Regions from separate parts of the Homo sapiens genome. Here all the other regions are linked to region 4. Evidence: fine-mapped expression QTL. A gene starts in region 4. Each other region holds a variant in brackets. All regions are shown on one strand. Distances are between the middles of the regions. Region 1 has its middle 20 kb from the start of PRKACB. Region 2 holds the start of LINC01725 (long intergenic non-protein coding RNA 1725). Region 3 overlaps TTLL7 (tubulin tyrosine ligase like 7). Region 4 holds the start of TTLL7 (tubulin tyrosine ligase like 7).

What was found. PIP is the estimated chance that this variant, and not a neighbour inherited with it, causes the effect.
Region 1: its variant is fine-mapped to the expression of TTLL7 in whole blood (TOPMed, PIP above 0.99).
Region 2: its variant is fine-mapped to the expression of TTLL7 in liver (GTEx, PIP 0.98).
Region 3: its variant is fine-mapped to the expression of TTLL7 in whole blood (TOPMed, PIP above 0.99).

Annotation. Positions count from the first base shown.
Region 1 is chr1:84,119,744-84,127,854 of GRCh38, forward strand. It overlaps a transcript of PRKACB not described here. Among named protein-coding and RNA genes, the nearest start is that of PRKACB, 20 kb to the right of the region's middle. RefSeq lists an enhancer at 3,172-3,321. The variant A/C (reference allele first, on the strand shown) is at 3,687.
Region 2 is chr1:83,856,303-83,864,402 of GRCh38, forward strand. It overlaps LINC01725 (long intergenic non-protein coding RNA 1725), which reads right to left and starts at 4,694. Exons shown (of 3, transcript NR_119375.1): 1 at 4,517-4,694. It overlaps LOC101927560 (a long non-coding RNA gene), which reads right to left and starts at 4,244. Exons shown (of 3, transcript NR_119374.1): 1 at 4,106-4,244. RefSeq lists silencers at 4,373-4,552, 4,653-4,782. The variant C/T (reference allele first, on the strand shown) is at 3,144.
Region 3 is chr1:83,928,529-83,936,639 of GRCh38, forward strand. It overlaps TTLL7 (tubulin tyrosine ligase like 7), which reads right to left. Exons shown (of 21, transcript NM_024686.6): 9 at 5,080-5,238; 10 at 608-702. Among named protein-coding and RNA genes, the nearest start is that of TTLL7-IT1, 52 kb to the right of the region's middle. The variant G/GA (reference allele first, on the strand shown) is at 4,413.
Region 4 is chr1:83,995,178-84,003,288 of GRCh38, forward strand. TTLL7 (tubulin tyrosine ligase like 7) reads right to left here and starts at 3,955. Exons shown (of 21, transcript NM_024686.6): 1 at 3,754-3,955. It overlaps LOC124904205 (a long non-coding RNA gene), which reads left to right and starts at 4,111. Exons shown (of 2, transcript XR_007066195.1): 1 at 4,111-4,529; 2 at 8,099-8,111. RefSeq lists silencers at 3,615-3,744, 3,755-3,854.

The sequences.
Region 1 (8,111 bases), 120 kb after region 4:
TAGGCACACATATAGCATAGCAAGGTGGCATTTATGAGTAGCTGCTATAGTCCTTGTTCTGTTTGAAAGTTGCTATAAATTTCCCACTGCAGCATATAAGTGTAGAAGGGATTCTTTTTCAGGGTAGTAGTTTAGACCATCATTCTTGAATCATTGAGACCTTGGTAGTGTTTCCTATATTGGAATACTGAAGTCTTCTCTGTTTTTATACTCAATATGCAAATTACAAGAAAGTACCCCACCTCCATCTATAACACAACTTTATGTCTCAGTAATAACCAGGATTAATCACTCAAACAGAAGTAACTTTCCTTTTCGGCCTGTATTTTTCAGTGAAATGTGACCAGAATGCCCAGCTGGCACTCTAAACTTCTGGTTCAAGGGATTAATTGTTACAGGTACTCCCCATACTTGAAGAGTACTTCTAAATTCATATTTCTTGAAGAGTACTTCCAAGGGTATTAAAATGTCTCAACTGTTAAAGAGTCCAAAGTTACAGAGACAAGAAGTAGAAAATTTTCAAATGGGTAACTTATCATACTATAGTTCATTAATTTTGACATACATACTTTTGTCTCACATTTTAGTGTATTCGAAATTAGGATGCTTCCTAAAATGATGACATCAGTCAGGCAATTCTTGTGATGTGCTTGTTATTGTCTATACATGCACAAACATGAAAATGCGTATCAGCAGGTTGGAAGAAAATATAGGAGATGGTAGTAGAGCGCCTCAAAAAATACTGTATCAATATTTTTGATATAAAGAACAATAATTGTGTAAAAACACACAATAATGACTGTGCATCAAAAAATAGTCTGGAAGAGTCAGACTATGAATATGAAAGCATTTTAGGAATTTCTTAACAAGTTTAAAATTTTTTTCACTTCATATGTTTACAAGAGTGATATTAAAAAGTTATGTCTAAATAAATCAAAAATAGTTCTCTCTTAATAGGGAAAAAATTTATAACTGACAAAGTATCTCATAGTTTAATTGCTGTACATTTTTCTTTTTTTTCTTAGTGGTACATGATATAATGGTGATTTTTATAATTGATAGTCATAGATTCAGTGAAATAGGGTGGTGATATCTACCACTCCCACCTCCACCTTCTGGTTCCCAGATACTTGTTTTTTATGGTTGAAGAAACACCAGGTAATGGTCCCTGAGAAGTTTCTTTTGTGTATGAGCTACAAGATTTCAAGACTTTTCAAATCTTGATCTTAGGTAATTTTTGAAGTAACAATAATCACTAATAGTTTGTCTTTAATGTTCTTGTACTAGCTATCACGAGTTTTATGTATCTTTGTTATTGTTACTATTTTGTGTCAATTGCCAAGAGACTTAAACATCTTTTCTAACATGTTCATATTCTCTTGATTAATTACATTATGAAACAACATGCCTATTCATTATTTTTATTTGGAATTTTTCCTTTTTTCATGATTTAGTGTATTTGTTACAAAAAATAACTTGAATTCACTTTTCTATATAGGAACATTTTTATTGATTTTATGTCTCCTCTTTATAATCTCTTTCATATTTCATTATGTTTCTTCTAAATTTATCTTGTTTTTTTAATACATAAATTTGAAGATGAAAAAGGAGGTACTCCTCATATACATTCATGTATTATACATATATATTCATATACATATATATGTACACATTCAAATCACAAGTCTGTCATTTTTAACTTTTTAATTGAAAAATCCCCAAACTTCTTGCCAATCGTAGCTAAAACTGTACATTACCCCTAAACTTTCCCTTATTCAGATCTCTAAAATGCCTGGTGCCACTCCATTAGCACCTGACATAATGGAAAGTGTGAAGAAGGGGAAGTTGGAGAGAAAAGAGACAGCAATCTCAACCAATTGCTATTAAAATATCTTACTTTTGCAAGTCTTACAAAAGCATGTGTCCTTGTGAACACAATGCTAGAATCTCTCCCAGGGTATTAGAAGGGTTGCCTGCACTTGAGAGGTCCTGAAATTTAATCTCTGTTAGCTTCACAGTAAACCTGCTGTGGCCCTCAGATTTCAGTTCTCTTTGTGAGAGAAGCCCTCTCCTCTGGCTGGCAATTTATGATTCCCTTGCACACACTCTCTTTTCTGGGGTCTATAGGACATAAATGTATTTTCCCTGCTATTCCAAGTTGAGCCCCCTCTCAACATAATTCTTTTCACTCTGCCACTGAGCAGAGGTGGTTTTATCTACCATTTAGTACCTTTACATTTTGTACATTTGGTGAGTCCCCCCAAAACAGTCCCTAACTCTTATAAATCCTAGCAGATAGGGTACATGTTAAGTCTCTGAGTGGTTTCCTTGAAGCCCCTCAGTTGATTTGAGGTAAGGGTGACCTCCTGCCCTGAATGTGTTGCATACCTCATAACTGCTCCAAAACAATTCTCTCCAGCACTCTTCAGCCTCTCCCTCTGATGTAAATTGGCTAATGTTGGCAGATCTGGCTTTAAAATCTAGTTTCTGTGGGTGGTTTTATTTTTCATTTGGGAAGGCTGGTCACCTGATAGAAAAATAAAAATAACCATGTTAAGACAAATTGGTGTTTTAGCTGTCTGCTTAATTGCTTTTGGCCTTCAGTTTTCTCTTTGAAATCTTATACTCAATTGAGCAAATGTTTCTCAGTTGAGGGTTTATGTGTTCTAAGTCCTGTGATAGGTACCAGGAATGCAGAGATAAACAGATCCATTGTAAACAGTCAAATGTAATAGAAGAATCATATGGCTAATCTGCCATATATTAAGTCATAGTGTCTAAATTGCATTAAACCAGCTCAATATAAGAACAACTGTTTTCTTAAAAGTTATATGAGATTTTATAAAAGATTTTACCTTGCCATTATATAGTAATTATGATTGAACTTACCAAATTAAATGTAATGTGACGTTTACTAGTATTTTTCCATTAAATTGTTAGTGAATTAAAAGGACGTTTTGGAATTATATGGGGGATCTTTGGAAGACTTAATTTTTTCATGGGTTGTATAAATAGATTTATGAGAGGGAAAATGGATATTAGTTTCTGATATGGTAGTTTATGTGAGAATTTTATAGTTTGATTTGTATAAATAAAATAATGTTATTGCATATTTCTGGTACATTACACTTTTATTTGTATAATAACCTAAACTTGTGTTTATCTTATATTGCTAAAATTTAAGGTAATGACAATAAAAGATTTTTCTGGTATGTATGTGAAGCCTAAATGGCCCCATTCTGCCACCTTCTGGCTGACTCCGTAGCTTATAATATTGTGAGGTAAGTGTCATCTAACCGTTCTGCCATGGTTGGCAGCAGACCATATATTTGGGGCCTGGGTGATTTAAAACAGGGTCAGTTTAAGCAATAATGTAGTTCTAGTGCCTCAGGCTCACCTTTATTTCATAGTTCTAAAATGTGTTAGAATTTATTGGAATAGAATACCACATAGTGATGTATGAGATTGTTTCTCCCAGGGTATGGAGTTGTAGTTAATTTTGACTTTTCTGCAATACTAAAGTTTCTTCAGATATTACTTGATAATTAAAACTGTATCAACATGGTAAGCTATTTATCAGAATCATCATAAGAAAGTTACTTGGAGAGTGATATAGAAATGAAAGTTACTGAAATCAGCACCAATTCCTTATAGAGAAACTAATGGGTTCAGTAATCACTTACTAG[A/C]GTTCTAAAATAAAAGGAGAAACCATATGTACAACAACAAAGTACTAACAAAATCTTAGTAATTTAAACCTCTAGTTTTGTGACACTTCTATATATTGCCATTTATTAAAAAAAAGAATTTGGGAAGGCTTAAAACTTTTGGAAATGTAATTCATTTAAAATTGGTTTGATAAACTTTTTGGAGAGGGATAGAGAAAATAAAGTAGAACGCTATAAAATGTTGCAATTTGTGACCTTTTGCAGCACACTTAACCTCTTTGTCACTCTGGAAAATGGGATAATAATATCCAATATAAAGGTAGATTGTTGTGAGGAATAAATGCTTTATTTACTTCATGTGAAACACTTAGAATGATATCTGACATATAATAAGTTAGCATTGTTATAGTCAATCTTACAACATTTAGAATATGTTACATAGTCTAATATAAATGGATTCCAAAATATTCTAGGCAGTAAGCTTTGTATTTTCTTAACATTTTTACACTCAATAATATTAAATTAAAAGAGAGAAATTGAAGACTGGAAATGCATAGCTCCCTAAAGTAGTGTAGAAATATATGTGATATATTGGGGCCTAATAAAGGGCCTTTATTTCTGTCTGTGACTCATCTTTTAGATACCTAAAGCTATCTCATAAAAAAGCTATGGTATCTTGAAGAAATTAATCAATTTAAAAACATTTATTGAGTGTATACTGTGTGATCATCAGTGTGTTAGATTCTGGTAAGAAATGATATGAGAAACTCACAAAAAGAAGTATAAACATGCAATTACTACAATGTGGTCAGTACAGTAACGTGGGTGTTAATATATTTTAGGAACTAGAAGAGAAGAAATAACATTGAACTACACTTTGATTAACAAGTAGGAATTAGCTAGGAGAAAGTCGTCTTACATAAATGGAACTTCTATGCATGATTTTTGACTACTGGTTTACCTGAAGTTTCTTACATTTTGTATTAGTATAACTTTACAGCCTTTCATATCCAGAATGCTTTTACACACATTATCTGAAGAGTGAGGTTTTCAGGTTATTATCTGAATGGTGAAAATTGGGTTTCTATCGTAGTAATTATGGGTGAAGGGGAAATATGTGTTTTTTAAAACTGGACATTTGTAATGTTGCTGTCTGAGCCTATAGCCCCCTACCTTCACCTCTTTATGCTGTGGAGTCAGGCAACTACACTAGCAGTCAAATGCCTGAGGTTCGCAGTTTGCCCTATCAGTGCTCTTGAGGGTTCTCATGTGAGTGAAAGGAGTGACTATCCCATGCCCTGCACCATTTCTGTGGTGGTAGTGGTGGTTGAGGGAAGAAGTTTCATCTTCACATTTCAGGTATTTAGAAAGCCCATCTGGAGATTTAGTTATGGGACTACCTGGCTATAGTCTTGGCTAGGGCGTTAGTAGATCAATGAAATTTTCTCATCAACACGAAGGGCTCTAAGTGTTAAAGGGAGACAGTGCCCACATCAACCATGACTAGGAGTTTCACATGTCCATATTTCATACATTTTAGTACTCTGGAAATAGAATCCCACTTTCCTCATCCCCATCACCTTATTACATTTAAGTCTTGTGTTAATTTTCTATTATTGCTATAACTAAATAGTGGCTTAAATAGTGGCTTAAAATAACACCCATTTATTATCTCACTGTTCTGTAGGTCAGAATTCTGGCAGGCTCTTATCTGGAGTTTCTGGGGAAGAATTTACTTCCAAGCTGATCCATACTTCTGGCAGAATCCAGTACCTTATGGTTATAGGACTAGGGTCTCTGTTTCTTGGTTGACTGTCATCTAGGGGGCTCCCTTAGCTCTTAGAGCCCTCTCTCTGGTGCTTCTACATAGGCTGTAATATCTCAGAGCCAGTAATGGTGTGCTGATCATTCTCACACGTGAAATTTCATGACATGTTGCCATGGCTCTCTTCTGCTCCTAGCTGGACAAGGTTCTCTGCTTTCAAGAGCAAATTTTTTTAGATCGGGCCCACCTAAGTAATCCAGAGGAATCTATTTAGTCACTAATTAGTAGCCTTAATTACATCCGCAGAGTCCAGTTAGGCATATATTGAAACATATCCACAGTTTCCAGGCAGTAGATGGAATTAATAGGGGGAGCATTCTGCTTATCAGAAATCCATCGGGAGTTTAGAAAGAAGAGGAAGTACAGAGAGCCTACGACCTTTGGTATGCATTTCAAGACTCAGTCACAATTAAGAGGAGGATCTACTTAATAGTTAAAGAAAATTTAAACCATCTTTCTTCCCTAATACAACCAGAAGTATAAACTAGTTGTTAACAGATATGCATATGATTAAAATAAAATTTAGAAGGCAGTGATGTGTTTCAGACTCATATTCAGCTATCTTTTTGAAATCTCCATTTGTATGTCTAGTAAGCATCTCAAATTTAATATGTCCAATAGAATTTTTTATTACAACACCCCTCCAGCCCCTTCCTTCAGAAATGGGATAGTTCCCTTGACCCCTTCGCGGGACTCACAAAGGGATTGACTTGTTTACTCAGCTCGCAGCTCTCATCCCCTCACGGGACGGGGAGCATGCAGGTGAGTGGGTACAGGGACTGGGACAAGTGCTTCTGGGCATCCGCAGGAGTAGAATCCTGTGCAGTCCAGTGGAAGCTTCCTGGGGGGTGGGGGGGAGGGGAGGGGAACCTGTGACCTCCGGAGTCCTAGAGGGCATGTGTTACAGTGTGCTCATTTAGCTTTGCCATCCACAGACAACTTAAGTGTTTAACAGATCAGTGGAGGGTCAGGGTGACAGCCTTTTGCACCCGCCCTCTTGGTACCCGAGTACTTGTCTGGCATCCAGGAAGAATAAGGTCATATGAATGAATTGAAGGGTGGTGAATGTGGAGGATTTTACTGAGCAGTAGAAGTGGCTCTTGGCAGGATGGGGAGCTGGAAAGCGGATGGAGTGGGAAGGTGGTCTTCTCCTGGAGTTCAGCCGTCCCCTGTGGAACTCTTCTGCGAAGTCCTGCTGTCAAGCTGTTCCTCTGAAGTCAAGCTGCTTCTCTTTGATGTCCTTCTGCTGCCTCTCTTCTCTCCTCTGCCACTCTGCCACTCTGCTGGTGGGGCTTGGGGTTTTTATGGGTACAGGATGGGGAGGTGGGGACAGCCAACATGGTTTTGGAAAAGGCAAATTTGGGCAGGAAAACAGGAATGCATGTTCTCACTTTGGACTGCAGGTCCAGGCTTGAGAGTGTGGCCCTCGTTGGGGTCTGCCCTCTTCTACCCAGTATTTCCCCGCCTCCTGTCTATATCACTTCCTCACCCTTCCCCAGCTTAATAATAACTGGCATCACTACTTATTCACATGCTCAAGCCAAAAAAAGTAGGAATTATCTTTTATTACTTTTATTAATTTTCTGGGTTCAATGAATCATCAAATCTCCTTGTTTTTCAAAAATATATATGAAATCTGTCTGTTTTTCTTTCCCACCACAACCTCAGTTCAGGTATCCATCATCTCTTGCCTGGACTTTTGCAGTAGTCCTTAACTATTTTTCATGTTTCCATTCTTACCTTCCACCTACACAGAAGATTCCTGAATCCATTCTCTTCCTAGTAGTCATACTCTTTTTGCCTTATTCCTCTATCTGGGTCTTTAATTCCCAGCTTCATCTGCATGGCATACTCTTCTTCCATCTTTCTGTAAGTTCCTCTTTTCTTTGTACTTCAGGTCTTGACAGCTGTGTATGTTACCTGAAACACATTATAGAAAATGTACATTTGTACATGAGATGAAGATAAATAGGGAGGAAGACCAAAGAGTAGAATTATCTGCTAAGTTGAACAATTACAAAATAGTAATCTATCAAATAAAATCTTAAAATAGCTGTATGTAATTTAAGCTTATCATTAATAAGCATCCTAATTTTCCCCTGCTCCTTAAAATTACCTATACGACATTGAGCTAAAGCATTTCTTTGTTGGAAAGAAAAAAAATTGAAAACAAAAATGCTTGTGTATTCAGCTCTGCAGGAGGGATATTCAACTGTATCAGTATTAAAAATCTATCTTTCCAGAAAAGAAGTATGAAGTTAATTTACCTGCTGGTATTACTAATAGTTTAATTAGGTAAACAGCATGAGTTCAAAACAATTAATCATCTGCCATAAAAGTCTAATTATTCCTGGCACATTACTGAGCTATTTTTACTGTGTGAGATAAATATGAATTTTGCGGGTTTTTTTTCTTTTTCTTATATTTGATAGCTATAGACAATAAATTTAGTTCTTATTTTCTGTTGGACTCTGACTTTTGAAATGTTATTTTGCTAACACATTCAATTGACTATATTTACTGTTTTCCTAACTTGATTACTACTTTATTTTACTTCTAGTGAATATATTTTATGTTTTGAAGAAAATATAATATTTCCTATACTTAAATCATAAAATTAT
Region 2 (8,100 bases), 140 kb before region 4:
TTTTTAAATCCACAAGCTCTTGCCTATAAAGACTTCTAAAAATAAATATTTTAACAACAAATCATTTATGTGCATTTTTTCTGAATTTTTCTTAATTTACAATCACATAAAAATAACTTTACTGAAAGCACAGAACTGTTGCATTTATTTGTAGCCATTACCTTTTTTTTTCTTTTTCTTCCCCTATCCTGGTAAATGCTTCCCACTCCCAAGGCTGAAAAGTACCTGAAGATCTGTAAATCATGACTTTAATAAGTATAATAAATCATTTGTTACAGTTATTTTTAAGACTTGACCTTATCGAGTTTTAACTGATATGTTTTGCAGGTACTCCTGCTGTTATATGGAAGCAATATAAGTTTAATATTTAGTTACTGCAACCTAAGGACACTTTGTTTTACTGAAGTATGAAAACTGTGAGTGGAAACGGTGTCCCTAAAATAATTAAGGCAAGACTTTAAGCCACAAAATACAGCAAAGTTTCTAATTAAGGTTAATCTTTGAAAGTTCAAAATTTAGTGATGAAATCTTCAGGCTTCCATTTTATGGTCAAATGTCAGTTGTTTATATTCAAACAACTGCCATTACATTTAACAGTACTAAAATCTTAAAGAAAATTTCCAGACATACCAGTTCTCTTAAAGTTGGATATATACTGTCTTAAAACAAAATTTAAAATCCACCATTTACACATTTAAAACTATTGCAATTTTTCCTAACCTTATTAGCACAGATGGAGAAACTGTATCCTGTTGAAAGCCATTTGTGACAGGAAAAGCAATGTCAATTTTTAGACACTCATAAATGTGCACCATAAGTGAAATCATAATGAAGTAACATATTGTGCATATGAAATACCTAAAGACAAAAAGATGATCTCTATAGAATGCATCATCAACTGCCATAACCCTAACTAATCACTGCACTTCATCCATCAAGTTCAGAAGCAGATGAAGTAATAGATTCCTAAGTAACACATGTACATGACCCTACTGCTTGCAATGTAAAATGGCCACTTCAATATATTTTGTTACGTGTGCTTATGTTGCTCTCTCTTGGTGGAAAAGCTGTACTGTTCAAATTGATTACCACTGATTTTTTAAAACTTTTTTAAAGGCTTTCATGTTAAGAGAACCAGTTTGTTTTGATACAGTATTTTCAATGCCATTTGCACAAATTAAAATGCTAATTGCTAACCTTAGAACAGCTAGAACTACTTTAAATAATTCCGAGTTTCTAAATTGATGTGAATTAAAAGCTGGTTGGAGCACACACTAAAATGTTTTCATTTATGGACTCCCAGGAGATTTCATCTTGTAATAAACAAAGTACCAAACAAAATGAAGAGCAAGAGGGTACTAACTCTGTAAGAATTCAGCTGTGAAAACCTGATTCACTGAAAGAAGGTGAAAATATTGGTAGAGTCTCCTAAGTGCTCCATGCATTTATATATTTGCAGAAACAAACTATGATTCATTTTTTTAAAAGTTACTGGATAAACATAAGTGTTAGTAGAAGTCCAAACATGTAACAGAAAAAAAAAATTTTGTGATAACCAATTTTAAGATGAGAACCAGTGGCATGCTGTAGCCGGCTGGTGCCGGTTTGTGAGAGCTGACTGTGCACATATCTTCCCAACTCCATGTTTAGTGGCATAATTTTGACAGTTGAAATCTGTCATGGTGGGAGTTTTTACATTACAGAAATTTTCAGTCATTGTAAGTAAGGGTTTTGTCTTTCTTTTTGTACTTGTTTCTTTTTTTTAATTTTATTTTTTGGAGGACTGGTTGTTATTTACCAGCATACCACTAGAAATGCCAAAGAACATGCCAAAAAGAAAATCTTTCTCCCTTTGGCTAATGACATTTAAAAATGTTTCTTAATTGCAAAGGATATAAATGCCAAATAAAGGGCTTCTCAGAGGAAGTCCCTCCTTTTAGTACACTGATAAATCAAACAATATATAGCATTTTATGGTCAGAATAGAAACTATTCACAATGACTATTTCCTCTCTTGCAAATCAAGAGTCTTTTCAGAGAGTGGCACGGCAGTTGAATTTCTAACCAGTTCTCTACAGTAGTCAAAAACAGCTGAGTAACCTTTGGAAAATTGTTCACTTATCAAAACACTACACTCAACCAAAGTGAAAAAATGTTTTGTATGCTGCTGTATTTTAAATATGAGACTGGTAACATAGATGTTCAATAGCATGAATGAAGATGTCAAAAATGGAAGCAAAAAGTCTGGCAAAGACTTGAAAATGATGCTTCATAAGCCAAGCCCCTCGTGTGCTCACTGGGTTACCCTCACCTTTAGAAGAAGGCAAGACTTGGGAACGTTTTAGGGTCTTCCTTTCACTTGGGAGATTTACCCATAAGTTCAGAGAAACAACTTCAGAAAACAACTGTTAGGGCATTTAAAATCTTAGAGAAGCACCTCCTATCTAGAAAACATGAGAGTTTAACTTCTGAAGCATCACGGTCTTCTGCAGCTCACATATGTGAACAGCATGGAAATAAACTCGTAATGCACGGTCTGGTAGCTTGCGCTTGCATTAGGTACAGCGCACTGTGTGGGGAGGATTATCAAGGGAAGGTTTGATTGACTATTACTCCAGTTCTGTCTATGCCCCCAGGACCCACTTGAAGACATTATACTTCAAGGTGACTATTCTGTTGAAGAGAACATAATATTAATTAATTAATGATTACATATAAATAATGGAAAAAGACTAATTGAGCGATAGTTCAGCTAAATAGCCCCAACAATGTCACCAGCAGTGACGGTACTGCTGAGCAACTGATAAACAGTACCAGCCATGGAGGGCAGAAACAGAGCCTTTTAAATTCATCTTTTCATGTATTTCCTTATAATGAAAGCAAATAACAAAAGCATGTTTTAGGCAAAAAGGTGTTAAAGAAAATATAATCATTGAACAGCAAGTGTTATTTGTTTACACAAACACTAAAACCTCAGAATAAAAAGATAGCTCATGATGTAGGATTGTTTCCAATTATTGGCAGAAGGACAGAAAGATCATCATATCAGTAACAAAGAACAATCATGCTGCAAAGAACAATCAATGGAAATGCAATTTTCAATGTTACAAATCATTAAGCTGAAGATATATGAGTATCAGTTT[C/T]AAATATAACATGTAATCAGAATCTGCTGTAAAACCAGATAAAAAATAACTTTGAAAAACTGTACTAAATCAACGAGTTATTTATTTACTAAAATAAAAATCTGACTTCTGGGTACAGTCATTCTGAAGGCTCTATCGTAGGGAATGAAAATGAGACTTCATCTCTTAACTTTAGAAATACAAAAATCTTCATAACAATCTTATGGGGACTATAATTATCATCCCCATTTCACAGATAAGCAAAATGAGAAACAAGGTATTAAGCAACTTATACAAGGTCAGCCCATTAGTAAGTGGTGCAGCTGGGATGTAAACTCTGGCAGTTTAGCTCCTGAGTCCAGCCTCTTAGCGACTACATTACACACCTCTCATCTGGATAAAACATAAAACTGTAGAAAATCCAGGAGTCCTTTCTAAAGAGAGAGGTTTTAGCTGGGTTTTGGAGGTACGTTGTCTTTTTTTTTCTTTTTGCCTCTTTCTACTATATGCCCTTATTTATAACCTAAAATATTAGATATGAAATTCTGCCTTCTGTTAAGCAAATGACCCATTATGCCTGATGTCCATAAGGGCCATTCCATCTGGAAACCAGAGCTAGTCCCTTAATTGTTCCATGCTAATAGTTAATAGAACATTTGATAGAATTCCTTACATATACCTTTGTTATTTAGCCTTATGACATTTCATTAGAATTATTTAGATGACTTTTTCCTGTACTAGAATTTGAACTCATGGAAAGTGAGGATGTTATTAATAATTTGTTTCTCTGTTATCTAGCATAGCAATTGACACACAGCTGACACTCAACATACATTTGTTAAATAGAAATTACATGCCACAAAGAAAGAAAGCCTGAAAGAAACAACCTTAGCCTGCATATTAAACGCACAGATAATTGCCTGTTTTACACTAAATGAACTTTTTAACAACAATGAAAAAAATTTTTGGACAACTTTCCTGACCTCTATCCTTTATTCCTCATGTAAAATAGGTCAAAAAGTCTGAACGATCCTTTCTCAGACATGTCTCCTGAATCTGGATCATCACCATGCCACCCGGGGTAGGCTCTGGTCCTAACCGGCCTGGACTCTGAGCAACGGTGTCCTGACTGCTCTCCTGACAACTGTCACTCCCAGGCCCGGCCACTCGCCGTCTCAGCGCCCCCTCGCGGCCCTTCTCTACCCACCTCGGGACTTCCCAGGCCTCCTGGCTGCGCCGCAGACCCTCCCCGTCCCAGATCCCGCCAGGGCCCACTCGGGCTCCAGCCGCTGCCTGGGACAGCCAAAGGCCGGCCCGGGCGGTTCTTCCCCAGGTGGTCCGGGGCGTCCCGGGCCGCACTGGCCTGGCCCATGGGCCCCGAAGAAGGCGCTCACCCAAGGACCACTGTCCGAGCGGCTTCCCCCGGCCCGGCCTGGTGCCGCGTCCCCACCAGCCCGGGGTGGCAGGTTCTACTCGGGAAGCCTGTTTTATGTCTTCTTTCACGCCCATATCACACCGACAAGGGTGAAGCTGTGGAACTTATACCTCGGCTGGGCCCCGCCGCCAACTCCTAGGGCACGGGAACTGCGCACAGGCCGGGGTTCCGCGAGGGGCGGAGCTTCCCGCTCTGCCCTCGGGCAGGTGAGCCGGAGCCTGGCACGTGGGCCTGGGTGTCCTGACAGCCCTGGCCCCCGCCGCCTCTGTACCAGGGAGAGCGCCTGGAAGGCGCCGCTGCCTCTCTCTCCCTACGTGCCCACCTGCCTCTAGGAACTGGTGAGTTACTTCAGTTCTATGTGAGTCTCCAGTGCCACAATTTAGTGTGTACACCAAACGGTGTTATTGAATAGATGAAGATGATTACCACCTGGTAATGAGTTTCCTTAGTCCCGTTCTTATAGAACCTGAAACTCAACGCTAACCACCCCCCCCCCCCGACTTAGAATCACAAACTAGATAGAATCTTTCTGACAATCGGGTGAGTTGGGTTTAATATGCAATGAGGAAATTATACTTTACTCCAAAAACTAGTGCTTGTTATTTTCCTCACAACAAAACTCTCAGATAGACAAAGTTGGCAACCCTATTCCACTCAGCTAGTCGATAAAAGAACCAGGATGGAACTATGATGGGAACCCACATCTTCAGCTTCCTATTGCAGTGTATGTTCTATTACATATGAAAAAGAGACAATAAAGTAGAGGATAAGTAGGACGCTAAAGAAGTAAGGAAAGGAGAGAATCCAGTGTTTGTAAGGAGCTTTGTTTTATTTTCCCAAAGCTTGGAGATTACTTGGCAAAGTGTGATGGTGCTACACAGCCCGTAAGAAATTTGTAATCACCCATCTAACAAGTACCTAGGCTGGATCTGCAAACTGCGTGGAAATTTCTAGCACGTGTGGGAAGAAGCATGATCAACATTTCTTAGACCATTTCAGGTCCGGAAGTGGCCCTCTTGCAGTTTAGCAGGACATATATTCTCAAGAGATTCTGAGTAGCCACAGAACTTACAGAAGTTGTCATTATTTACCTACTGCTCAGAAAAACAGGACACTGTCTGTGGGCCAATTTGCTAAGAAAAAAATTTAAATAATATGTAAATAAATGTAAATAATGTAGAAGCACAATCTGCCTTTGCTTTTTCTTATAAATATAAGAAAATATTTTCATTAAAATAACCAAAAAATAGACAAGATTTACCCAGCACCTTTAGAATGAAAGTAACGTGGCAGTGCTTCACTGGGAAAAAGTGAAGCTGAATGAGATGAAATTTAGAAACTGAGAAATGGTCAGGAAAAAACAAGAATTCAAAAAGCAAATAGAAGTATTATTTGACTGAAAAACCTGAGGCTAAAATATGAAATCAAGCTAATTTCTGAGGTATCTACTTATTCTTTGTTTCAAGACAAGTCTGACTCCAGTTTGGGGAGAGTCAAACAGAATGGAATTAGCTAAATTTGCTTATTTTTAAAACTCCCCTCAATTTCTCCCCCAAATTTGAGTTTCCCTTTGTACTTCTCCCATTATGATGTAGAAGATTTACTAAACAAATATCAATTTGGACTAAAATGATATTAGGTTTTGATGATCTACCTATTTTTAGCCTAAGGACTAAGTGGTTTTCTGAATTCACATTTTCATCGTTTTAATGAAAATGAGGCAATATGCTGAAATGGTATTTTCTTAGATTGTATTAAGGTTTATATACCTAGATTTTTCACATACACTGTGTCATATACTTTTCCTCTAAATCCAATATATTATGAACACACAGGTAACGTTTTTACTGCTAACAGCATGCTGTAGGTTTAAAAAAATTATTGTTTCTTGACCTTTTACAAGTTATTCTAACACTAACAGCAGCATAGCTATAACAGGACAGAACTTGACTAAATATATTAATATAGAGTTTTATTATCCTTGATAATTTTTCTCACTGCAGTGTCTAGTTAATACTTAAAGGGTTTTTGTATGTTTGCACCCATTCTTAGAGAGGACAAGAGTTTGAATTTGCATATTCTCACCGTATGTTTCTATTACAATATCAAAGATTGAAGGCTGCCTTAATAAAACATTTCAAAAACAATGAGAGTCCATTGCTGTGCAATAGTCAAAACACTACTCAGTCTAAAAAATCTTAGTATTTTTGATAACCGTATAAAATAGCACAATTTAGGTCACTAAGTGCCATCAGCATATACTCCCTAAATATACCAAATAGTGGTATATTTATTGCATTTTTAAAGAAGGAGGTTAATTTAGCAGTATTTCACATGGAACCATACAGAATGGAGTATGATAAAATTTCTTAAGGCCTAACATGTTGCTTAAAGAAAACTTAGACACAGAAAAAATATCTGACTTGATAAATGCTGTCTCTCACAAATATGACAAACTCTGAATAAATTCCAGCTTTGAAGGAAGGAAGCCAGCCACAAACAGGCCTTTTTGTTTTGTGTAAGAAGATACTTGCAGATGGCCAGCAAGTGTTTCTAGATATATCCTGTTATTATGCAAAGTTCTCATCTGCTGATGGATGACTTTAGACTATTAAAGATGAACTTTTATCATATATGACCCAATAAATAATTAATATCTATTCATAAAGGCTTGGATCACATTCTGACCACACTCTCAAGCATTTTGCATTACTTCACATGTCGTGATTATGTTGCAAATATCTAATATAATGCATGTTTATCATTAGGGTTATTTACCTCTGGCCATCCTTCCTGGCCTCAAGCCATCCCTCTTGAAACCCTGGTTCAAATATTCCCCTGGAAATGACCAAATTCTCAAGTGACAAGTGCAAGTAAATTTCTTGCACCAGATTTGTCAGTGTTCATATTTATACCACCAGTCTATATTTGATAAATATATGATTAAATGCTTTGATTACTTTATTAGTGAATGAATTTGTGTATTTTGGTGTTTTCCAAAGTGTGCTCAATAGAAGTCTAGTCCCGGGAGATGCGCTGCAATAAAAGATACCATGGTGAAATTAGTTTGGGAACTGATGCATGTTGCTGTCCCTTTCTGGAAAATGTCAGTGCATCTGAGGATACTAAAGACTCTTGGAAGTACTGAAAGTAGAGAAACACCTTCCAATTTGTATACCGTTTCCCAATTTGCCTGACCATGGCGATGGGTATCGTTGTCACTATGCTGTGTACATACCTGATGAATAACCATTAAAAGATAACTCTCTTCCAGTTAAAGATTATGTTATGCTCTACAAAAGAACCAAATGCTTATTTTGTTTTTAAGGTACTATATAGTTTTCTAACACTTGAAATTATTCCAAGATTATTTTTATAATTTAAAAAAGATTTTCATTCAATTAAAAATGAAATTATATATATAATTAAAATTATTTGATAAAATAGGGAGATAGCAAACTACCCACATTGGCCTCATCTTTAGGAGTCATTGAAAGAAATCAATTCAACTTTCAAAGCCTTTATAGAATATTTTAACTTTAT
Region 3 (8,111 bases), 67 kb before region 4:
GCCCTACATCCCTACCAGCCAAGTTTTTTCTCAAATTTTACTTGCCTCTCTAAATGGAAAAGTTAACTCTCACTAAACAACTGCCTCTCTTTTTTATTTACATGGGGAGCATGATGTAATGGGAAGACCTCTGGAGAGAAAGTTAGGAAATCCATGTTTGAGTTTTTTTTTTAATTTCCTGAATGAACTCTTTGTGCTTTAGTTTCTTCTTATAAGATGAGGAAGATAATCTAGAGGGTCTCTTAAAGTATTTACCAATTTAATCTTGTACTCTATATTAAATAATTATACCTACATTGAAATTTAACCTCATTTACTGCAGGTACAGACTGTTGCCTGGGAAGCAGGAAAAGCAGTATACAGGAGTAGGGGGGACAGATTTTTTTTTTTAACTATATGAGTTTAAAGAATAGATGGAATCAAGAAATGAAAAATACAAAATGGATGGAACCAAGAAATGAAAAATACAAAATGGATGGAATCAAGAAATGAAAATTATAAAATATAAAAATAAATATACTATTCTGAAAAGCCAATTTTATGTACAAATGATTAATCTATGTCAAATGTGGAGATAAATGTCCAAAAGATAGAGAGAGTATTTTACCTTATGTTTAGTAGCTTCAACGCATTTAGCAGCACTCCCCTTTTTACATCATAGTCTATTTTCTGATCAGTTCCAAAGCTTGGGGCTCGGTTAATCTGAAATTTACAAAGAAGACAATATTGGAAGGTAAATAAATATTCAATACATATTTGTTAATCCAATGTGGGATCTCTAGCCAGTAGAACAACTCTACATTAAACCTCAAAGCTTTACATGGCAGATGGCCCAGTTGTTATTGCCACATCTCCATTCTGCATCACCCTAGGTCAACAAATTGCAAGGGATTGACTATTAGCACCATCTCCTTCCCAAGGCTGCCTTAGTTTAGGAGCTTTACTGTCAGTATAGGCTGGCCTCTCCCTCCATTCCACTCTCTCCACTACCCCATGCAATTTAGGTTTTTTAAGTTTAGGAAAGTTAAAAGTGATTTAGCCTAACAAAAAGGAAATAGTGATATTCATCATGTTACCAACACAGTAATAATTATATCAACACAATAATAATTATATACATCTATATATTTAAAATATGGAAACTATCAGTGCTCCCTTTTCACTGCCTCAGATCTTCAGGAATTCATTAAGATGAAAAATAAAAGAGCTGGAGTGTTTGTTTTTGTCTTTGTTGAGTCTTGTTACTATTGTCATTGTTATAAAAATATAACTGGAATAGCTGATGTTTAAGAAAATTTCTTAATCAGTTAAATCGGTTGGTTAGAACACTGCTGAGTTCAACACAACAGCTTAGCTTCTTGACCACCAACTAATCCCTTAGGCTATCTCAAACATATGTATATATGCTACTAGTCACAGTTATACACATCTGTCACCACAAGAGACAAAACAATTGAAAGCATTCATTCCACAACTTGCACCTGAAGAAATATCACATTATAATCAAGAAATTACCCAGGAATACAACATCTTTAATTAGAAATGTGTCACAGGTTCACCGCAGAAAAATAAGTAAAACTAAGGAAAACAAATAACAAAAGATACCTGTAATCCCACTACTTAACACTTAGTGTCGTGTTAACCGTTTGGTAGATAGTATTCCAGATATTTTCTATGTATACATATTTAAAATATTCATTTTACCTTCCAAATGCATGTCTATACTAACCATACTTTATTTTACATTCCAAGCTTTTCTCTTAATAATGTATCATGAAAATCTTTCATCATGCCATCATTTTGATGGATGCATGGTACTCCTTTTATAGAGATATGCCATGTTGTATTTTGATTCCTTTGTTGATTTCTGATTTAAAAGGTGGTGGACACATTCCTTTATTTGTGATATAGTCTCAAGGAGAAGGAAATAGCTTGAAAACGGCAATAACATCCATTTATTATAGGTCAATTTGAGAAAGGGAGTTTATTAATCTATTACGAAAGCTCTAAGCATTTCCCTTTGCAAGTGCAAAGAAAGGGTAAAGTAATATATTTTATGGGAGAAAAGTTTCAACCATACTGATTCAAATTTCTGGAGTTTATAATACAACTAATGACAGTGTTGCCACTATATGTGACATGGTTATAAACTAAACCAGACATTAAAGAACTGATGAGTCAGTGGTCCATTGGCATGTTATCTGTCTTTGTAGAATTCCTCAGAGTTTCCATTCCAAATTTCAGTGTGGAATTGTGCCAGGCATATCCCTCCTCCAGGATGGTACTGAGGTCTTGGTATAAAGCCATCTCAGATCTCAATCTCTCTCTCTCTCCTTACCTATTTCAAATTTTTCCCTCTACTATAAGATAAATTGGTCTATGAAGAGGTATACCCACACAAGATAAACTATTAATAATATGTGGAAAGGCAGGAAACCTTTTTCAATTTAGGTTTTCATTCAGGGTTGTTCTTGTTTTTTTTTTTTTAAGTTTTATGAGAAAGGTAAAGAAAAAAAATAAAAGAAAAACCACAAATGGCTGACAGAAGAAACTAAAAATTAGTGTTCCACCCAGCCAAAATTCTCCTCTATAATGAGATGATTTATTTGGTTCTCATTTCCTACCCCAATTCTAAAACAGACAAAACATAGATGTTAAAGTCTCAAAATTCAACAGCTTGTAAATGCATTAAGAAATGAAAATTATTATAAAATATATATTAGTAAACACTATTTTCAACTGTCCTAAAAAGTTTTATCAAAACAATCACTTTTTCCACAAATTAAAGTATCCATAATAGCTTCTGTGCTCCTAAGTTAGTGCTGTTCCCTCTGCACCACAGCCTTTCCCCACCCCTACTTTATCTCTCTCAGCCCCCAGCCCCTACCCCAACCTTCTGTAGCCCTACAATCTTTGCTCAGGTGTTTCTTCTGTAAAGATTCTTTTTAACTCTCCGATACACACAGGTACACAGAGATATTAATCATGCTATTGTTTTTGTCATTTCCCTTTTACCTACTAGTACTTATAACTATTACCATAAAATGCACATCTGAATAATGGCTACACCAGGGCAAGTATTCTGTCTTCTTATATTCCCACCACCTAACACAATGACTATAACTTAGTAGGTTCCTGTTTAATTTAAGAGTACTTAAAACTATTGGTGGTATCTTCATACTCCACCAAAGTTCCATGTTTTTCCTAAAAAAATGTTTTCTACTTATGAAAATTTGTGCAATTCTGCCACTAGCAATCAGTCCCTGAAATTATTCTGGTTAACTAAAAGTTATCACATACCCAGAAGCACCTTCTACCTTATTCCACTTGATGGCGCCAAAAGGTTTTTAACAATGTATATTAGCCCCACCAAAATATCAGCAGGGAGCAAAACACAAGGCAAGATTGAAGATTCTTTTAACTGTTTTAATATAACAAATGTTCATTATTCACAGCTCTTGGTTATTGTGGAGTGTTTTAATGGTTCTGATTGATCTAGAAACAACGAAGGAAAGAGTAAAGAATGAAGAAACATTCATGCAAACAATGGTTATTTTGAATCTTTTAAAATCCAGAATTCAACCATTCAGTCAATTCTGATTTAGCAAGCTAATGGAAAGCTCTAGTGAAGCAAATGTTTCTTCTAAAAAGGTAACTAAGATATCTATAAAGTCATTATTTCCTACTATCCTCCTTATGCATGTGCCTTCACTTTTTCCCCACTCCATCAATGACAAAAGAAAAGTAACAGGGGCAGAAGACAATATAGCTAAGAACAGGAAAGGACTGCTGCAGAAAAAGTAAGAAATCTAAAGAAAACTTCAGGCCTTAGCAAGATGAAGGGTCCATAGTGCATAGTCAAGTGTTTTCATATCCAAGGAACGGAGGAAGCAAAGGATAAGTAAAACTTCCTCACATTTATCTTATCTCTAAGACCCAGGCTGGAGCAAAATATGAACATCCAACAGAGAGAACTGCATTTCCTTGGAGACACAATACATGTTACTGTTTAAAGTAGATGTGACCACACATAGGCGCGCGCACACACACACACACACACAATCTTTGGCCCTCAAATTAGAAAAGTGTCATTTCTTTGAAATGTATTTTTAGTATCATCTCACCTACCACTCATTTAATTTGCTTATGCAAACCTTGATATTACACACACAACTTCTAACTTATAAATCACTAACAAAAAGAGAGATACTTGATTTAAAATGAAAGGTAGTGGTTGACTACATCTTCTACAGCTGTATGTTCCTGATTACGTTTCCAAAACATGATATTTAAGCGGCCACGAGAAGGTGTGTAAACCCAGATCAAGGAGCTTAAAGGGAACTGCTGGATGGGATCTTCTGGACCACGTGACTTCTAAGGTTTCTTCTGGGTAATATAAATATAACTAGCAG[G/GA]AAAAAATATAAAAATTGTCAACAGAGATAATTTTTACTTTCTCCTTTTTACTATTCTGTATGTGTTACATGACCTTTTATCATCCAAGAAAAATAATGGTAACTCTCACCCTACCAGGGACTGGCAGCAAACCTGAAGGCATACAGTTGACAGTCTCCCTGAGGGAAGCCCCAGGTATATAACATGGCCTTAAAGGAGAAATTTACCACCTGGGGTATCGAATACTGAATACTGATTAATGAACCAATTGGAGCCTCTCGGAGAGTCTGAAGGGGAGACACACTGAAGGCAAGATCCTGAAGCCCAGGCACTCACAGAGAGGAGAGACACTATCCAGAACTCATGATGTGGTAGAAGCCAGGAGGCTGAGAAAATAGTAGAGCAAGTAAGCAACAAAACAGTAAAAGCACCTCCACACTTCAATCCCAAATACCTGGCCTAGAAACTCAGCTGATGCTAATTTGGGAAAAGTAATATCAAACACTGTGATTCATTCTTAGAACTGTTCTAGTCCCTGAATTTTTATCCTCTTCTTCCCACTTATTCCATTCAGCCTTCATTCTGGACAGTTAATGGGACAACTGTGTTAAGTACACATTTTTAAAGCATTTATTTTAATACGTAAGGACAGTGATAACTCTTCTTTTTTCTTAAAGAATGCCTTACCTCCAGAAGCCATGGCTTTAGTTTTCTATCCAACAAAATATCAAATCCCAGGACTTCAAAGCAGACACTTTCGCTTCCTGGAGGTTGACCAGGTCTACACATTCGATAGGCATGCAGGACATGAGGTTCTGCTACAATCAGGGTCTTTACCACCAATTCCTATAAGATTGTGATAAAAGAAGTGAAAATGCCTTTGTATCTCATTTCATATGTGCAAATATAACCGGGGCCCACAAACTGGCAGCCTGGCCAAGTTTACAAAGCTCTGTGGCATCTAGCCCCTGCCACTGCTCTGACTTCATTCTTCACTCTTACCCCTGCCCACTGCACTCCTCACACTTGCTTTGGGTTCCTCAAGTAAGTGACACTTCTTCCTATCTTAAGTCCTTTGAGTTAGCTGTTCCCTCTTGTGGAATAATCTTTCCCCTATATTCCCAAGTCTGGCTCTTAGACATTCAGAGAGGCCTTCCTAACCCTCAAGTTAAAAGCAGCCACCCTTCATTTCTTACTGCACCACTACACACAGCATATAACAAGCTGATATTTTTCTTTTTACATTAGAGAAGGGTCCTTGTCTGACTTATTTATAACACCATTCCCAGTGCCTACAATAGTAGCTGGCATTTAGTAGATATTCAAGTAAATCTACTACTTTGTAAACAAGTAAAACAAAGCTGATAAATGTGGTTTCTATATGTTAAAAACAAGTAAGGTAGGAGCATACGCTAGCCCCATCCAGAAGAGATGAGGGTGACAGGAAGGAAAAATTCCAAGGAGAGTAAATTATTTCACAAACACCAGTAGAGAAACTCCACTTAGATAAAGGCTGAAAGGGCTGGAAGACAAAATCTTGAGAGTTGAGTTTCTTTATTCAGTGATGATTTTGTAGTGTATAAGTTTTATCTGAGAAGACTGTTACCAATTAAAAGACTGGCTCTCAATATTTTCTGAGAGAAAACACATAATACTACTAGGGTGAGTTATTAACCCTAATTTTTAAAAAGTTGTTTTACTGAAGTTTCAGAATAAGCTGTAGGAGAAAAGCTGTCTCATTTATTTTTGCTCAGAAGACACTGTCATTTTAACTCCCTCTCTACAGGTATAGGCAATAGAAAAAGACAGTTAAGAACCTGGCTCTAAAATAGGCTTCTTATGTTTCTTCCTGGCTTTGTAACTTGTTAGCTGTGCAACCTCAGTCATGTTGCTTAAACTTTGTGTGTCTCATTTTTCCTAAATATAATCTGCAAAAGGTTAATGTAAGAAAAAAATGAGATTCCATGTAAGACTCTTAGCATAGAGCCCAGAGTACTATTATTGTTACTGTTACTCTATCATTCCTCTAGAATTCCACCTTATATATCAGGTTAGACTCAAATATTCCACTACCTGGTGGAACAATATTTATTCTATGGGTGATAAAAGGGAAGACAGAAGTTAACCTCACTGTTACCCAGAACCACAATCCAGTTTATATTTGGGAATAAGTATCAGATGTCCCATGAGAGGCTGTTTTCAAAAAATTTTGTTCAAGGTTAACAAATTCATGACAGCACCATAGCATATAAAATAAAAGACAAAAAGCCACTTTATATAAATCTTCACCAATATTACTGAAACCACTTGAGAGCAGAAAAAGTTAAAACTTTGACTGATAAGTATCTGTATGGAACAGTACGGGCTGAGAGAGGGGGTGGGGACTGATTATTAATCAACAGACCCTGAATTACAAATCTGTGTTTTTGCTACGTAGAAAATAACCTGCTTTTAGATTGTAAAGGCAAGTTTTCAGTAGATGTGAAAATGAGGAGTCATATAAACAAACACAAATGAAATTCCACTACTGTTTTTGAGAATTTACAACATAATATCACTGCTTTAAAACGTGATTTGTAGATTTATACCTTAGGTATACAAAAAGCAGTAAGGATAGTTTTTTTTTTAATGATTATACTCATTTTTAATCTCCATGGCTTGATTTTCTACTGATTTTTATTATTGACCAGAACAAAAGTACAGAGCTCTGTTCTTCACGGAAGGTATTGATGAATGCTGCTTTTCATATATTGATAGTTACCTTTTAGAGAAATTGCCCGGGTTATTAAAAATAAGTTATAAATTAAATTCAGGGAATTTGTAAACTAAGACATCAAGATAAAAATTTACTGCATAATTGCTTTCTCCACCTCGTCCTGTCATTCTCTTTTTATATTATCCCATTGATTCACCTTAAACAGTTATCTATATAAAGTATACCAATTCTTAATAAAGACAGCCAATTTTCAAATAATTACATAAATGCAGACAGGTGTTTGACAAGATAATTAAAATAAAAGTACTTGAAAAGCTAGATTTATTAACTGATTGTTTATAGATGATTAATATGCATTCTAACTAACATAGCCAAGAATGATGCAAAATTTACCCACCTATAGACAAGACCATGAAATGTGTCAGAGATTAATAGGCCCACATTGGCTATGTTTGGGTCATATCTAAAAATTATACTTAACGTTCTAACAGAAAGTTAATTTCCATATCCTCTCATTAGTATTAGTCTTGCTCGTTTACCTTCTCTTAATTCAATTGTGTAGGAAAAAACACCACTTAAAACCAATACACGTAAAGCTAATGACCCTCATTATTCTCCCTGATTCTCTCTATACATGCCTCACCAAAGCAGCCCAACAGGTTTTCACAGACATGTCCCCAAAGAGCCAAATCCAAATGAGGGTTACAAATGTGTACAGAAAAAAAAGAATGCCAGAGGGTATATAAAACTTTCTTGGTCCCACTGAGCAATAGACCAATGCATTGGAATTATCATCAGATGGAAGATAGTATGATCTTCCATCAATGAACTATGGTCCAAAATTAATGAATTTTACCATTTTGATGCTTCTGACTCACTATGATAGTAAACTGTCATTAGAATGGTTTTTGGAATGTCCACAAAATTAGCCTTGAGAAAATAATTGCATAAACAAATAAATGCAGCATTGTTATGATCCAATTTCTCATTTACATGCATTCCA
Region 4 (8,111 bases):
AGATTGGGTGTTATGAATTATTAATATGCAAATATTCTATAATCAACATGTAAGTATTCCAAATTGAACACTGGGAATTGATACAGTTTGGATATGGGTCCCTATCCAAATCTCATGTTGAATTTTATTCCCCAGTGTTGGAGGTGGGGGTGGGAAATATTTGAATCCTGGGGACATATCCATCATGAATGGCTTAATGCATCCCTTTGGCGGTAAGTGAGCGCTCACTCTGAGTTCTCACAAGATCTGGTCACTTAAAGTGTGTGGCACCACCCCCTCACTCTCTCTCTTGCTCCTGCTTTCTGCTATGTGACGTGCCTGCTCCCCCTTCCCCTTCAACATGATTGGACGCTTCCTAAGGCCTCCCCAGAAGCAGATGCTGCCATGCTTCCAGTACAGCCTGCAGAACTGTGAGCCAATTACACCTCTTTTCTTATAAATTACCTAGTTTCAGGTATTTATTTATAGCAATGCAAGAATGGCCTAATATAAGAACTCAGTAGTTTCAAAACTTGCTTAAAATAGTGCAACTTCAAGACCTCATACCCTTTAACCCAGAAATTTTATTTCTGAGACTCTATGCAAAGGAACTAATATTCAAAATACAAAAAAAAGCATACGCACAAAGATGTTCATCACAGTGCTATTATTATCATCAATAATTGTTTATTATGATGTCATCAATAGTGACAATGAGGAACAATTAGGCAATGATAATACATCTACCAAATGGAAAATTATGTAGTCATTTTTAAGCCTGCTATTAGGCATTTTAAACCTAGTATTAAGCCAGTTGTAATTAAATGAAAACTAAAGTTATAGAATTTTAAATTTAAAAATAATATAAAAGTAATATAGATACCATAATTAAAACTACGCATGAAAAAAGTGGAAAGAAACATGTCAAAAATGAATAGTGATTGTCTTTAGTTGGTCAAATTATGAGGGTGTTTTTTTCCTTTTTATATTCTTAAACTTTCCAAATTGTTCATAATTATCTAATGGGGGCCGGAGCTAAAAGGCAAATTCCTTTGGAAGAGGAAAAATTGTACTTGCACAGAAAACTTTTTCTCAGTTTAGTTGACAATCCTTTTAGTACCCAGGAAACAGACCATTTCCTGGAAGGGGACTCGGGGCAACAGATATGGAGAATGTAAGAAAGAGAAATGATTAACAGATCAGAAACAGATCTCACTGTCTGACATTCAAGTTTCTTCATGATCTTTCACCATGTATCCAAACAGTAGATGAGCACTTCTTAGCTGAACCTTTATGTGGCTTTCTCTTTGCCTATCAGAATCCTTCCAGTCTCTGAGACTGATTTAATTCACTTCAACCCATGAAGACTTTCCTGATCCTCTGATCATCCAAGGCTCTACTATTTCTCTTTTCTCTTAAGGTACCGCTATAGCAGTAGGTCTGCACCACCCTTTTCTGGTATTAAGCCAATTCTAAGTTATTTGTTAATTACTCACGTGTAAGTAAAATTTCCCCTGCTAGACTTTAAGTTCCTTGAAGTGGGGAATTTAGATGGTTTGCAGACTGTAGTCATTGGACAGAGGAGAGAGAGCAGTTCTAAAGCCAAGTTGGTATTATATTCATACTCTCAGTGATGTCATCTAAGTAAAATGTGCTGTCTCTGTTTTAAAATGTTGCTGCTGACCATCCATCACCAGGACATGCACTTTCCTTTTTTTTTTTTTAACAGCAGTGGTATTGTATTTTTGCTTATTCATTCATGCCAGTTCTGCTGTCCCCCTTAGGATTAAACAGATTGGATTACAAGATGCCTTGCCAAGGTTCAGGATATAGGTTATAGCCATGTAAAGAACAAAATGAAATGACTTTTAGGAATCAAACTCAAGACTCTTCACAAGACCCCACTTCTCATACTCTTGTTTGAACAACAAATATAAATTTGTGCCTCCATTTTATGTCCTTATTTAGGCAGTGGACTTTATCAATACCCCCGTTAACTTGAAAAAGAATTCTCCAATGCAAATGGTTCAATACTTTAGAAATGACATACTAAGATGACTCTGTTCCTGCCTACCATCAATACTATGTGAGTATTTAGAGATAATGAGCATCTGTACTATAGCAACCTGCCTCTTGAGACATAAACAAGAGATGCATTTCTTAAGAAAAAATCTGTAAGTCGCTAATGAAAGCAAGTCAAAGGACCCATCAACGGGCGAAGAAAGACCTAGCATCCATTATTTTTACAGAAGGAGCATAGAAGGTCAATATAATTGTTGACTCTTAACGGCAGGGTAACAACAAACTAATTCAGTTTCCCACTATATAAGAACTACATTTTACTACAACACTCATATTTCTAAACTGACTAAGAGTCAAGGCTTGTCCAAATTCCATGGCTTACTGAGTGGTCTTGAACCTTCTCTGAATTTTGTTCCTTAGTCTGTAAAATGGAGTTATCACCTGTTATGCAATATCACAGAGTTGTAATGAATCAAGTAACATTATCTTAGTATGGGTTCACCTGTCACCCTATTGTGGGGTGCAGTTCAGTCGCACACCTCATGAACTAAGTAACTATTATTACTGTAAATGTCTCCCTAACATTTAAGACAGAAAAAGATTTCCAGAGTTCTTCTTACGTTTTTAATCGACTTCTCCAACACTTGAGCATCCACCAAATATCACTGCCAAAAATGTGCTGAACATCTCCTGTTATGACCTCACTCTCCTATGTAGTGTTGTTCACATATTTTTTGCCATAAGCTTTCTAAGAAAATAGATTATTTTTCACATGATTCAAAGCATCTTTCTTTCATATTGAAGGAGCAATAATTCCTTATGCAGAAAGTTTACAGGTTGTTGTTGCTGTTGTTTGAGATTACTCCTCAATTAATTAATTCTATGTTTAATATCTAATAGAGCATATATATGTACACTTGGACACACTCCATTAATACAGTGGAAAATCCATGGACTATAGAGTCAGGAAAACCTATATTCGAATTCCTGTTCTGTGACCTTGAGAATGTAATTTAACTTCCCTGCTCCTCAGTTTCCACATTTGGTTCTGGATTATGATGATTTAATAAAATACGATATATAAAAGTAAGTGCCTAGGCTATGAAGGTATTATTTCCTACCTCTCCTAAATCTTTTCTTTCTATGCCAGGATCAATCAAACCCACCCAGAATACAAGGCAACTTTCATAGGGTATCTTTTACATCAGTCGAGGGAACGCTGCGATGTGATATAAGTGGATGATGGCATGAGTCAGGCATCCAACAGAGCAAGATGTGGAGAAAGTGAGAGGTACCTACAAGGGCCCTAGACTTCACTCGCATGTGCGAAAAGGGCATTTTGATACCCTTTCAAGAATGCCCCGCATACTCGCGGAGGCTTATACCACGATGTGGGAAAACGACGGAATTACAGAATAAACCAGCAGGGAGCCTCCTCGTTCACCCAACCCGACCCCGCCCGCCCGAGTCTCCCATCTGGAGCCTAAAAACTGAGCTGAGATCACAGCAACTGACCCCGTCCCCTCCGCCCTCTCCCTCCCCCATTCTGCCCAAACCTCTCAGGGCACGAATGGTGCTGAATCATTTGCACGAACGCAGCAGCTCCCCGTTCCGCGGCTCCCAGCGGGGACGGTGTCCCCAGAGCAGTGACAGTCCGGGGATGGGGGCCCGGAAAGAGGGCCAGGGCGGAGCCTTTGGGGACGTGGGGACATGGAAGGGGGTCGGGGGAGGATGGCGGCAGCAGGTACTCACCCGGGTGAGGAAAGCCCAGCCCGGGTCCTCGCGTCCCCGCTGCAAGCGGTCCCCCAGGTGCTCCCGCGCCTCGCAGCTTCCCCGTGGGCGGCCGCCCCGACTCGGCAGCCTGCACTGGTGGTCCGGTGCTCTCCTCCGCCCGCCCACCGCCCGTGGCAGCCACGGCTCGGGACTCCGGTGCTCGACGCGGAGTGCCTGGAACAGCTGTCGCTGCCCAAGCGGGTGGCGGCTACCGACGGGCCAGACCATTCGCCTGCTGCGGCCGGGGGTGCACGACGTGCCGAGAGGCGCGGGCGCCGGGGGCGGCGACGGTTGGGAGGAACAAAGGACTCGGGGAATCCTCTGCCCCCTCGGAGTCAGGAGGTCCTGGGGACAGGAGGGATCAACGGAGGGGCCGCTGCCTCTTCTGGGGGTTTACTGAAGACACTGCTCGAGCTTTCCCGGGCCACACACACCCCCCCCCCGTTTGCCTTGGTCCCGCTCGGGGCTCCTTTAGAACGCGGCAAACAGAGGACTTAGCAACGCGAGCGCCTGGGCGGCGCCCCTCCTCAGAGATGCGAGAGGCGCTGGCCTGAGCGCCTCCGGCCACCTCCTTCTACCTCCGGGCCCTAGGCGCCCGATCCACCTGCCTATCTGACCACAGACATCTTCCCACAAAACAGTGGAGCTTTTTGAATCTTTGAAGAGAGTCTTCAGATCTTTTATCTAAGCATCTTTGTGAAGCAAAGAATAAACGGGTATCTGAGGCCAGCTCGAAAGTTAGGAAATAAAATCAGGTGGGGCCCCATCCCGTAGATGCTGAGGGACAGCTCTGACCTAGAGTTCCTGCTAAGCAAATGTTGAACCACGGCAGTTGTAAAAAAATGTAGATTTAGGAAGCCATTTCGAGATAAAGATTTACAGAAGATTGTTGCAGAAATTAAAGAATATTCGAGGTTCATTGTTCACCATTTTAGAGTTGCGTGTCTTGAAAACGGGAAGGCAATCATGTCTTCTCATAAAATGAATTGTATAGAACTGGAAGAAGTCCTAACACATGAATTCCTTAGACTTTTGTGGTCCCTGCTTCTGTCACGCTGGGTTCACACAGGTTCATTTCAGAGCATGGTGAAGATCAGGACAAGTGTACAGTTTTCCCTGTAGAAAAAAAGAAAAGATAGAACAGAATTGGCAACTACCTATAAAATGTGATTAAAGGTAGGAAAAAAAAAGGCCCTCCAAGTGCATCCCAAAAAATATAAAATTTCACAATTTAAAGTTTTGTCCTTCGTTGAGTAAATCAACATAAATTCAGCACTTTCTATAGACCACTGTGCTGAGAATAGTCTCATTTTCATTTCTTCATTTATTCTTCTAAAAACTCCTGTGAGATTGGTAACCTGCAATAGACCTCCATACAGCCTTGCCAGCATTGGGAACTGATCTGGTCAGTGAGGGCATCTTCTCATAAAGGACACTGGTGAGAAACTGGGCTCAGGGTTTGTCGTGCTGGGTTAGTCTCACGATCATAAGCGGCAGAGCAGACATTGCCACCTGGAGTTTTTGACTTGTTCCTTTCCCCTAGAATGCCTCTGAGAACGATATACATTAAACCGTGTCACATCTGTGATTGCAACTTGAATGTGAGTCTGTTTATCCTTCCTTTGTGAGAAGGGGTTTTAGAATGGAGAGGGGGCAGTTAGGTGTCCAGGGTAGGCATCACCCTGAGGCAAGAAGAGTGATCAGAAAGAAGAAGCTGGACTTCACCCAGAACTAGCCGAACATCAGCGTCACAATACACTGTCAAGGTCACATGAGGTTGAAGAGGAATTCTCCACTGCCTTCTTGTTAATCATCTTTACATCATTATTTTCACTGTATTACACTTTACACTATGCATGCACTATTACTACATTACATGTTATCATTCTTCCATTCCTAGGAAGGGGCAAGAATTTTTCAATAAACCTATTATCATGGGTCCTCATATACCTTATCAAAAAAAATGTTAAGTAACAGAGGTATTAGCAACACTTAACGTCACCTCAAGAAAGCTTTTTGAGAAATCAGGAATAAAATTAAATTGTTTCTGTATGATATGATATTGTTACTATGTTAATGGTTGTTGTAAAGATTCACACGTCAGCAGCAGCAAAACAGAAATCCCCAAAGTTGCATGTTGCCGAGGAGCAGGAGCATTGGGTCCCCAGTGGCCAGACTGGCCTCAGGCTCAGAAATGTGTGATTCTTCTCTCCATGTGCAGTTGTTTCACTTTCAAAGGCAACAACAGGAACAGAACACATGTAGATGAGGCGTCTTCTGAGTTAGTGCTTTATGTCAGATGTTAGATGATAGGGATATAGAAAGGAATTTAGAGCCTTATGATTTGTGGTGCGGATGGGCCAGTGACATCTGCAGCAATCTGTTTGTATAAGTTGACACTCTTGGAACATATGTTTCTGAATGAAGAAAGGGGAATTTTTGTGCTGGCAGCCTTGGGAAATTGTCAAAAGAAGTGGAAGGAATGGTGTGATGCCTGCATTCCCTGCTTTCCTCAGAGTCCTCAAATGGTTTTGAGCCTGCTGTGTAAAGAACTTAGGGCCAGAAGCTAAATAATCATCTTCCCCACAAATGACTTTGTGAAATTTAAGTTCTAAGAAGTACTACTTTAGGCCTGGTGACAAATGACAGCATGGAGCTGGCAAGAGAGCCATTCTCTCACCCAACCTGAAATAGACCTCCATACAGCCTTGCCAGCGATAGGAACTGATCTGCCCAGTGAGGGTATATTCTCATAAAGAACACTGGTGGCCGATACAAGGTCAAGGTAACTTAAGTAGGAGCCCAGAGCAGTAAAGCAGGAGTGGTATTATTCCTGAGCACCTGAAAGACACTGCTGAGGATTTCTTGCTGCAAATGATGGAGACTAGGGAGGCACTGCAGGGTCAAGGGAATCATTATTAAACTCAAGATGATTGTTAAACCTTATTTAGGCACCGATATTAACATGAACTCATTTGTATTCACAAACTAGCATGATCTGGGAACATTCCAATATTACTTTTTAAATGATACTAATAAGAAGAGAGCTAGAGAGAAAGAGAATACTTAATGCCTTTGATAAAACTGCATTGTGAGCCACAAAATGTTAAATCTTGATGCAAGATATTCCAGTACCTGCTATGTGTTGGTCTCTTACCAAAGCATGTGGTGACATTAACCTCTCAACTTATTCTTGCTGAAGAGAGTGCTTAATTGTGTTGTTTCTCTTTGCGTTTAGCTAACACTTATTAAATCATTAGTGTTTGAGTAACTAGTATTATGTGAAGTAAGTACTATTATCACTCCCATTTTATAAATGAAGAAACTGAGAATTACAAGGGTGTATTAATTTGTCAAAGGTAGCACAATTGGAAAGAGACAAAGCTGGATTTCAAACACTAACCAATACATGACGTGAATATCAGCATACTTTTACTGTCTCCTGCTATAGAGAACATGTACATTGCATGTTTCTCTGCAGCAGAATCTATTTTTTATTTATTATTAAAAACCTGTTTTCAACTCTCATTTCTAAGAGGAAATGAGTCATTTCCCACAGAAGATTTAAACATTGGATACCCTTTTCTAGGTTTCTGTGCTCAGAAAAGAGACCCTGAATTTAAGAATAAGAAGTGAACCTTGTAACATAAACTTGACCAGTGATGCCTAAAATTCTTGCTGCAAAATTATGATTGCAGGAACTCCTGCATGAGACTCTGGAAACTAGATTCCTATGAAGTTCTGTAGGTGGTTCTAATGTACAGCCAAGTTTGACCAGACCATACTGGACAAAAACAATATGGGGCCTACAAAAAATAACATTCAGGCTTCTAGACTTAACCCCTTAATCCCACCTTTTATTAAGAAGGAAATAAGAGGCTGTTATTTAAAACCTACATTATGTAATTTTACATTTATCATATAAAATGTATTTATTAAAGGGTTTAGAATTTTTCTCAGTGTTGTTTTTGTCATTCTCAACAAATCTTCAAAAAGCCCCAAATTTAAAATGATACTCATTCAAAATTACTTTTATATATAGATATTGGACTTTAAGCCCTTTTTAATTATTATACGGCATTTTATATAAGACAAAAAGTCATATTGCATTAGACTTTTGTTTTAATTTTTGGAGAATTTACATGACAGTAAGTCATTTCATCCAAGAAGATAATAAGCTTTTCTAGTTTATGTTTTTTCATTTCCCAATCATATTTTTATAATTTTGCTTATATATGTTCTGTAACTTTCTTACCAAAGTTGTACCAAATTTTTTATAGCACTTGTATTCTGAATGAAATGTTCTTTCCATTTCCTTTTGTAGGGTCTTCTACCAG